Linked DNA regions of Homo sapiens. The protein of the gene in region 1 interacts with the protein of each later gene in a biochemical or structural test. Each region holds a gene or a part of one and is shown in the gene's direction. Other genes may lie near its edges.

What was found. The genes of interacting proteins can lie anywhere in the genome.
Region 2: the proteins of PTMA (region 1) and NUPR1 interact in a biophysical measurement, tested with the Homo sapiens proteins (one study listed by IntAct).

Annotation. Positions count from the first base shown.
Region 1 is NC_000002.12:231,711,404-231,714,080, forward strand, and holds the end of PTMA (prothymosin alpha), read left to right. Parts: coding exon 1-16; intron 17-121; exon of another isoform or gene 122-205; intron 206-483; coding exon of another isoform or gene 484-486; coding exon 487-580; intron 581-1,039; coding exon 1,040-1,113; intron 1,114-1,400; coding exon 1,401-1,448; 3' UTR 1,449-2,148; downstream 2,149-2,677.
Region 2 is NC_000016.10:28,537,473-28,541,222, reverse strand, and holds the start of NUPR1 (nuclear protein 1), read left to right. Parts: upstream 1-2,248; 5' UTR 2,249-2,315; coding exon 2,316-2,427; intron 2,428-3,013; coding exon of another isoform or gene 3,014-3,067; coding exon 3,068-3,204; 3' UTR 3,205-3,217; intron 3,218-3,553; 3' UTR 3,554-3,750. UniProt on the Homo sapiens protein: Transcription regulator that converts stress signals into a program of gene expression that empowers cells with resistance to the stress induced by a change in their microenvironment.

The DNA of each region.
Region 1 (2,677 bases):
TGCTAACGGGAATGCTGTGAGTGTCTGCTTTGCTCCTGAGCCCTGGCAGCTACCGCCCCACAAAATTTTTCCTGTTCTACTTTAAACATACCTATATATGTGTGTGTATGTGTATATGTATAGCTTTGCACAGTGGCAGTATCGTAGCCAATGAGCTTTACCCGAGGCGCGATTATTGCTAGTTAAATATTTATAAAAACCTTTCGAGCAGCGCCTGAACAAGAATAGGTTCAGAGGAGACTCCGGTAGTCTGAGTTTGGGCTTGGCCCAGGGTGGGGAAAAGCCCTTGTCCTGGGGCAGTTAATGTGCAGGTTTCATGATGGAGCCTGGAGGGTGTTGACTGGAGAAGGGTCTCTGGGGTGGGCTTGGCTTGGCTGGGCTGTAGATGCAGCCGCCAGCCTCTGGTGGGAGGCCGGGCATCAGGAGCAACGCTCTGTCCAGCCTGGGGCCAGCTGGTAATGACATGGCCTGTTTTCTGTCGAGGAGAATGAGGAAAATGGGGAGCAGGAGGCTGACAATGAGGTAGACGAAGAAGAGGAAGAAGGTGGGGAGGAAGAGGAGGAGGAAGAAGAAGGTGATGGTGAGTAGCCTTGTCTATCTTCCCCTTTTCAGGTACTTTTTCCTGGCCTTGTCTGGCAGAAGGGGAAGGAAGGAATTGGGGCTCCTGGGAGTGGGACAATGGTACTTGGGGCCAGTGGACCACATGGCCCTGGGCACCCACCTGTAGAGTCAGGGAAGGTCTCCCTGACATGGAGTTGTGCCCATGCCCACTCACACTCACTCGCACACCTGAAAGTTTCTTTCGTGCAGCTCTGAAAGCCACTGATCTATTGGGCTGGCCTTTTGGGGTGCAGCTGCTTGGGCCTCTCTCCTCTGGAGAGTCCCACCTGTGTAGTGGGCGTGGGTGCCCTGATTGGGCCCAGTTGCAGGCAGTAGAGGCAGGGCAGGGACCTTGCAGTCCACTACATGTTCCTCGGGATTTCCCCAGGAGCCACAGTAGGAGGGAAGTGTGGTTTACCTGGCCTTTGATTCTCTCCAGGTGAGGAAGAGGATGGAGATGAAGATGAGGAAGCTGAGTCAGCTACGGGCAAGCGGGCAGCTGAAGATGATGAGGTGGGTTCTGGCTTGAGAAGAAGGGGGGTTTGGCATCTGGGTCTCCCCACCTGCCTTTAGCTGAGGTGCTCAAGCTGCGGAGGGACTGTTTCTGACTTTGTAGGTGGCCACTGTGTGGTCCTGAATCTTAAGAACAGGAAGGAAACAGGGCTGGGCTCAACTTCCCAGAGGCCTTGGGCTGTGGAGCTGGGGGTCCCTGGTTCTTGCTCTGCCAGCAGGAGCTGAGGCAGTGGGCTGGATAGGGCTCCTGGGGTTGGAGGGGCCTTTGACAGTCTTTCTCTGCTTAGGATGACGATGTCGATACCAAGAAGCAGAAGACCGACGAGGATGACTAGACAGCAAAAAAGGAAAAGTTAAACTAAAAAAAAAAAGGCCGCCGTGACCTATTCACCCTCCACTTCCCGTCTCAGAATCTAAACGTGGTCACCTTCGAGTAGAGAGGCCCGCCCGCCCACCGTGGGCAGTGCCACCCGCAGATGACACGCGCTCTCCACCACCCAACCCAAACCATGAGAATTTGCAACAGGGGAGGAAAAAAGAACCAAAACTTCCAAGGCCCTGCTTTTTTTCTTAAAAGTACTTTAAAAAGGAAATTTGTTTGTATTTTTTATTTACATTTTATATTTTTGTACATATTGTTAGGGTCAGCCATTTTTAATGATCTCGGATGACCAAACCAGCCTTCGGAGCGTTCTCTGTCCTACTTCTGACTTTACTTGTGGTGTGACCATGTTCATTATAATCTCAAAGGAGAAAAAAAACCTTGTAAAAAAAGCAAAAATGACAACAGAAAAACAATCTTATTCCGAGCATTCCAGTAACTTTTTTGTGTATGTACTTAGCTGTACTATAAGTAGTTGGTTTGTATGAGATGGTTAAAAAGGCCAAAGATAAAAGGTTTCTTTTTTTTTCCTTTTTTGTCTATGAAGTTGCTGTTTATTTTTTTTGGCCTGTTTGATGTATGTGTGAAACAATGTTGTCCAACAATAAACAGGAATTTTATTTTGCTGAGTTGTTCTAACAAAGCTGTCTCAAGCCTGGTTTTTCTGTTTCAGTTTCTTCAGACCTTCCAGGGCACAAGGATAGGAGGGGGAGGATCCTGGGGACAGTGGGTTGACATTTTGGGAGGCAGTTGGATGTGTCCTGTGATGGGCAGCAGAGTCTGGTGGGTGGGCAGGGACTGAGCTGCAGTTGGCTGGGGGGGCTGCTCACTGGGGCAGTCAGTGATTGCCCCAAGAAGCCTTAACTGGGGAGGAGGACTTCATCACTGGGTGCCACATGGGGACCCTGGTGCCCTGGGGGTGGGGGTTTGCAGTCCTAGACACTGGAAACGGGCCACACGGGACTGCCATTATGTGGAGCGCAGGGTGCTGGTGGTATAGGCCAAGAGGGAACTTGCCAAGCCTCCCAGGATGAGCGTCCAAGTGGTGGCTGCCTCTGCAGGCCTCACAGGTTTAGCTCCATGACGTGGCTCCCCCTGCTGGTGGCACGTGGTACCCCCCGGCCTCTTAGAATGCCGGGGTTTTGGTTTGGCACTGGTGCAGCCTGGCAGTCATCCAACCTT
Region 2 (3,750 bases), on another chromosome or scaffold:
AGAGCACACAGCTAACTAGGGGGCAGAACCAAGCTTTAGACCTGAGAAGCCCTGTTCCAGAGCCTACTCCTTTAACCATTAACTAAACTAAACCAACGGTTGCATGCCAGTGGGGACAAATAATGGTAAAGCAAACAAATAAAAAAGATACTGGCCAGGTGGCTCACGCCTGTAATCCCAGCACTTTGGGAGGCCGAGGCGGGCAGATCACCTGAGGTCAGGAGTTCGAGACCAGCCTGGCCAACGTGGTGAAACCCCGTCTCTACTAAAAATATAAAAATTAGCCGGGCGTGGTGGCACAAGCCTGTAATCCCAGCTACTCAGGAGGCTGAGGCAGGAGAATCACTTGAACCCAGGAGGCGGAGGTTGCAGTGAGCCGAGATCATACCACTGCACTCCAGCCTGGTGACAGAGTGAGACTCTGTCTCAAAACAAAAACAAACAAACCAACAAAAAAAGGATGGAGTCTTGCTCTATTGCCCAAGCTGGCCTTGAACTCCCAGCTTCAAGCAATCCTCCCAGCTTACCCTCCCAGAGCCCTGGAATTACAGGCATGAGCTACCGCACTAGGCCAATCTTTGCTTAATTTAAGATTATTTTCCTCTTTCTCTGATCACCTGGTCTGTTATTATTGGCCCAATCCTGTTTTCATTCAAGTATCCTGTCTTCACTTTCATTTCCTGGGTGTTAAGGAACTCATACATCATCCAAATCTGGGAAAACAAAGGCTAAATTCAATTCCGGCTCAGGCAAGGGAGAAACACAAGCAGAAGTTCAGCTTTTTGTGTTTTTGTTTTTGTTTTCAGACACAGTCTCATTCTGTTGCTGAGGCTGGAGTGCAGTGGCTCGATCTCAGCTCACCACAACCTCTCCCTCCCAGGTTCAAGCGATTCTCCTGCCTCAGCCTCCTGAGTAGCTGGGATTACAGGCACTTGCCACCACACCAGGCTAATTTTTGTATTTTTAGTAGAGATGGGATTTCGCCATGTTGGCCAGGCTGGTCTTGAACTCCTGACCTCAGGTGATCCACCCACTTTGTGGATCTCCCAAAGTGCTGGGACTACAGGCATAAGCCACCACGCTCGGCCTCATTGTGTCTTCTGCCTCAGTACATCCATATTTTGAAATACATATTATTTTATTATAATTTGTTTTTGAGACAGGGTCTCCCTCTGTCACCGGGCACTGTAGCATGTGTCTTTCAAACATTATCTCATTTGATCCTCTCCCCAACTCTAGGAAGAAGATACAATTATTATCATCCTTATTTTACAGAATTGGAAACCAAGGCACAGAGAGGTGAAGGGACTCGCCCAAGGTCACACGGAAAGTGGTGGGTCAGGGGATTGAACTGAGGGCAACTGGCTCCAGACCCTGAACTCTCCAACCCTCTGCCACCCTCCTCCTAGGTGAGGGAGATTACATTACTGGGGACCCTGTTTCAGGATATTAAGGGGTTTTCCAAGATGTTTCTCATAGAAAAAAGAAAAAAAAGGGTGTGGCTCATGCCTGTAATCCCAGCACTTTGGGAGGCCGAGGCAGGCAGATGACTTGAGGTCAGGAGTTCAAGATCAGCCTGTCCAACATGGTGAAACCCCATCTCTACTAAAAATACAAAAATTAGCCAGGCATGGTGGCAGATGTCTATAATCCCAGCTATTCGGGAGGCTGAGCCAGGAGAATTGCTTGAACCTGGGAGGAGGAGGTTGCAGGTTGCAGTGAGCCAAGATCACACCACTGCACTCCAGCCGGGCGACAGAGACTCCATTTCAAAAAAAAAAAAGAAGACAAGCAAGATGTTGAGTGTGACTGGGTGGAAGCCACTGACTTGTCCCTGGCACAAGTGTGCTGATATCCCTTCCCCCTCCTTCCTCACGTCCTGCATCTCAGCGAGAATTGGGGTGCCGGGGTTAGCTGTGTGGCCGTCATCCCAGGCCCAGGTGAAGCCCTCGATCAGGTGAGGCCATGATCCCAACGAGTGTTTTAGCCCAGATCCTGCCTCTTCCCTGCTTTCTGCCGAGAAGCGGGACCTCCTCTATGGAAAATATCCAGCTGGGTGAGCCTGGGAGGGAGGAGGTGAGTTGGGCTGGACTCAGGGACCGACTCTTCCCGTCTCATGACTGTGTTTACTGGGCTGGATTTTGGGAAGGGGCCAGATTGCATCAGACAGGGCCTGATGGGCTGGAGCCAGACTGTGGTCTGAGGAGGAGACACAGCCTTATAAGCTGAGGGAGTGGAGAGGCCCGGGGCCAGGAAAGCAGAGACAGACAAAGCGTTAGGAGAAGAAGAGAGGCAGGGAAGACAAGCCAGGCACGATGGCCACCTTCCCACCAGCAACCAGCGCCCCCCAGCAGCCCCCAGGCCCGGAGGACGAGGACTCCAGCCTGGATGAATCTGACCTCTATAGCCTGGCCCATTCCTACCTCGGTAAGGCCCACTCAGCCATCTCCACGGTCCTTCCTCCTCTCCCGAAATCAGGACCCACCCCTCTTGTTTCCTCTCATTTCCTTTCCTTTCCTCTTCGTTTCTTTCTTTCTTTTTTTTTGAGAGAGTCACTCTGTCACCCAGGCTGGAGTGCAGTAGTGTGATCACAACAACTCAAACAACTCACCGCAGCCTCGAACTCCTGGGCTCAAGTGATCCTCCTGCTTCAGCCTCCTGAGTGGCTGGAACTTCAGGTGTACACCACCTGCAGTGGTGAGATGGGGTCTCACTATGTTTCCCAGGCTGATCCCAAATTCCTGGGCTCAAGCAATTCTCCTGCCTTGGCCTCCCAAAGTGCTGAGATTACAGGAGTGAGCCACCCTGCCCAGCCCACTCACCCTTTTCTAGCCAACCTGTTCCTTGGACCCTCACGTCACCCCTGTCTAATCCCTTATCCCAGGAGTGCTATGTTACTCAGCCTGGGACCTCACACACATCTGGGGTCCCACATTCCACAGAGGGGAAGCAGCAGGCTTCTCCCTGCTCTTCCCATCCCCACAACCCTGAACCCCTGCCTCTCCTCTGACAGGGCCTCTCATCATGCCTATGCCCACTTCACCTCTGACTCCTGCCTTGGTTACAGGAGGTGGAGGCCGGAAAGGTCGCACCAAGAGAGAAGCTGCTGCCAACACCAACCGCCCCAGCCCTGGCGGGCACGAGAGGAAACTGGTGACCAAGCTGCAGAATTCAGAGAGGAAGAAGCGAGGGGCACGGCGCTGAGACAGAGCTGGAGGTAAGGAGTCGGGGGGCCCAGAGAGCTCAAGGTGGTGCTTCTGCCATGAAGGACAGGCCGGAAGGTGTGTGATTGGGTGGGGAGGAGGGATCAGGCAACTGTTGTCTTGATGCAGAATAAAACGAGACATATGTTTGATTGTGAGTTTCCTAGTGGCCAGAGCAAAGTGGGAACACAGAACCTTTCCAATTGAAGGGAAATTTGACTTACAGAGACAGAAATTGAGGATAGAGAGGGTGGGTCCTTCCCTGGAGTCACAAATCAAGTGAGTGGGAGAGGCAGAATTAGAACCCAGATCTCTGTCCCTTTTACCACCTGCTTTTCCTCACCCCCCAGATGAGGCCAGACCATGGACACTACACCCAGCAATAGAGACGGGACTGCGGAGGAAGGAGGACCCAGGACAGGATCCAGGCCGGCTTGCCACACCCCCCACCCCTAGGACTTATTCCCGCTGACTGAGTCTCTGAGGGGCTACCAGGAAAGCGCCTCCAACCCTAGCAAAAGTGCAAGATGGGGAGTGAGAGGCTGGG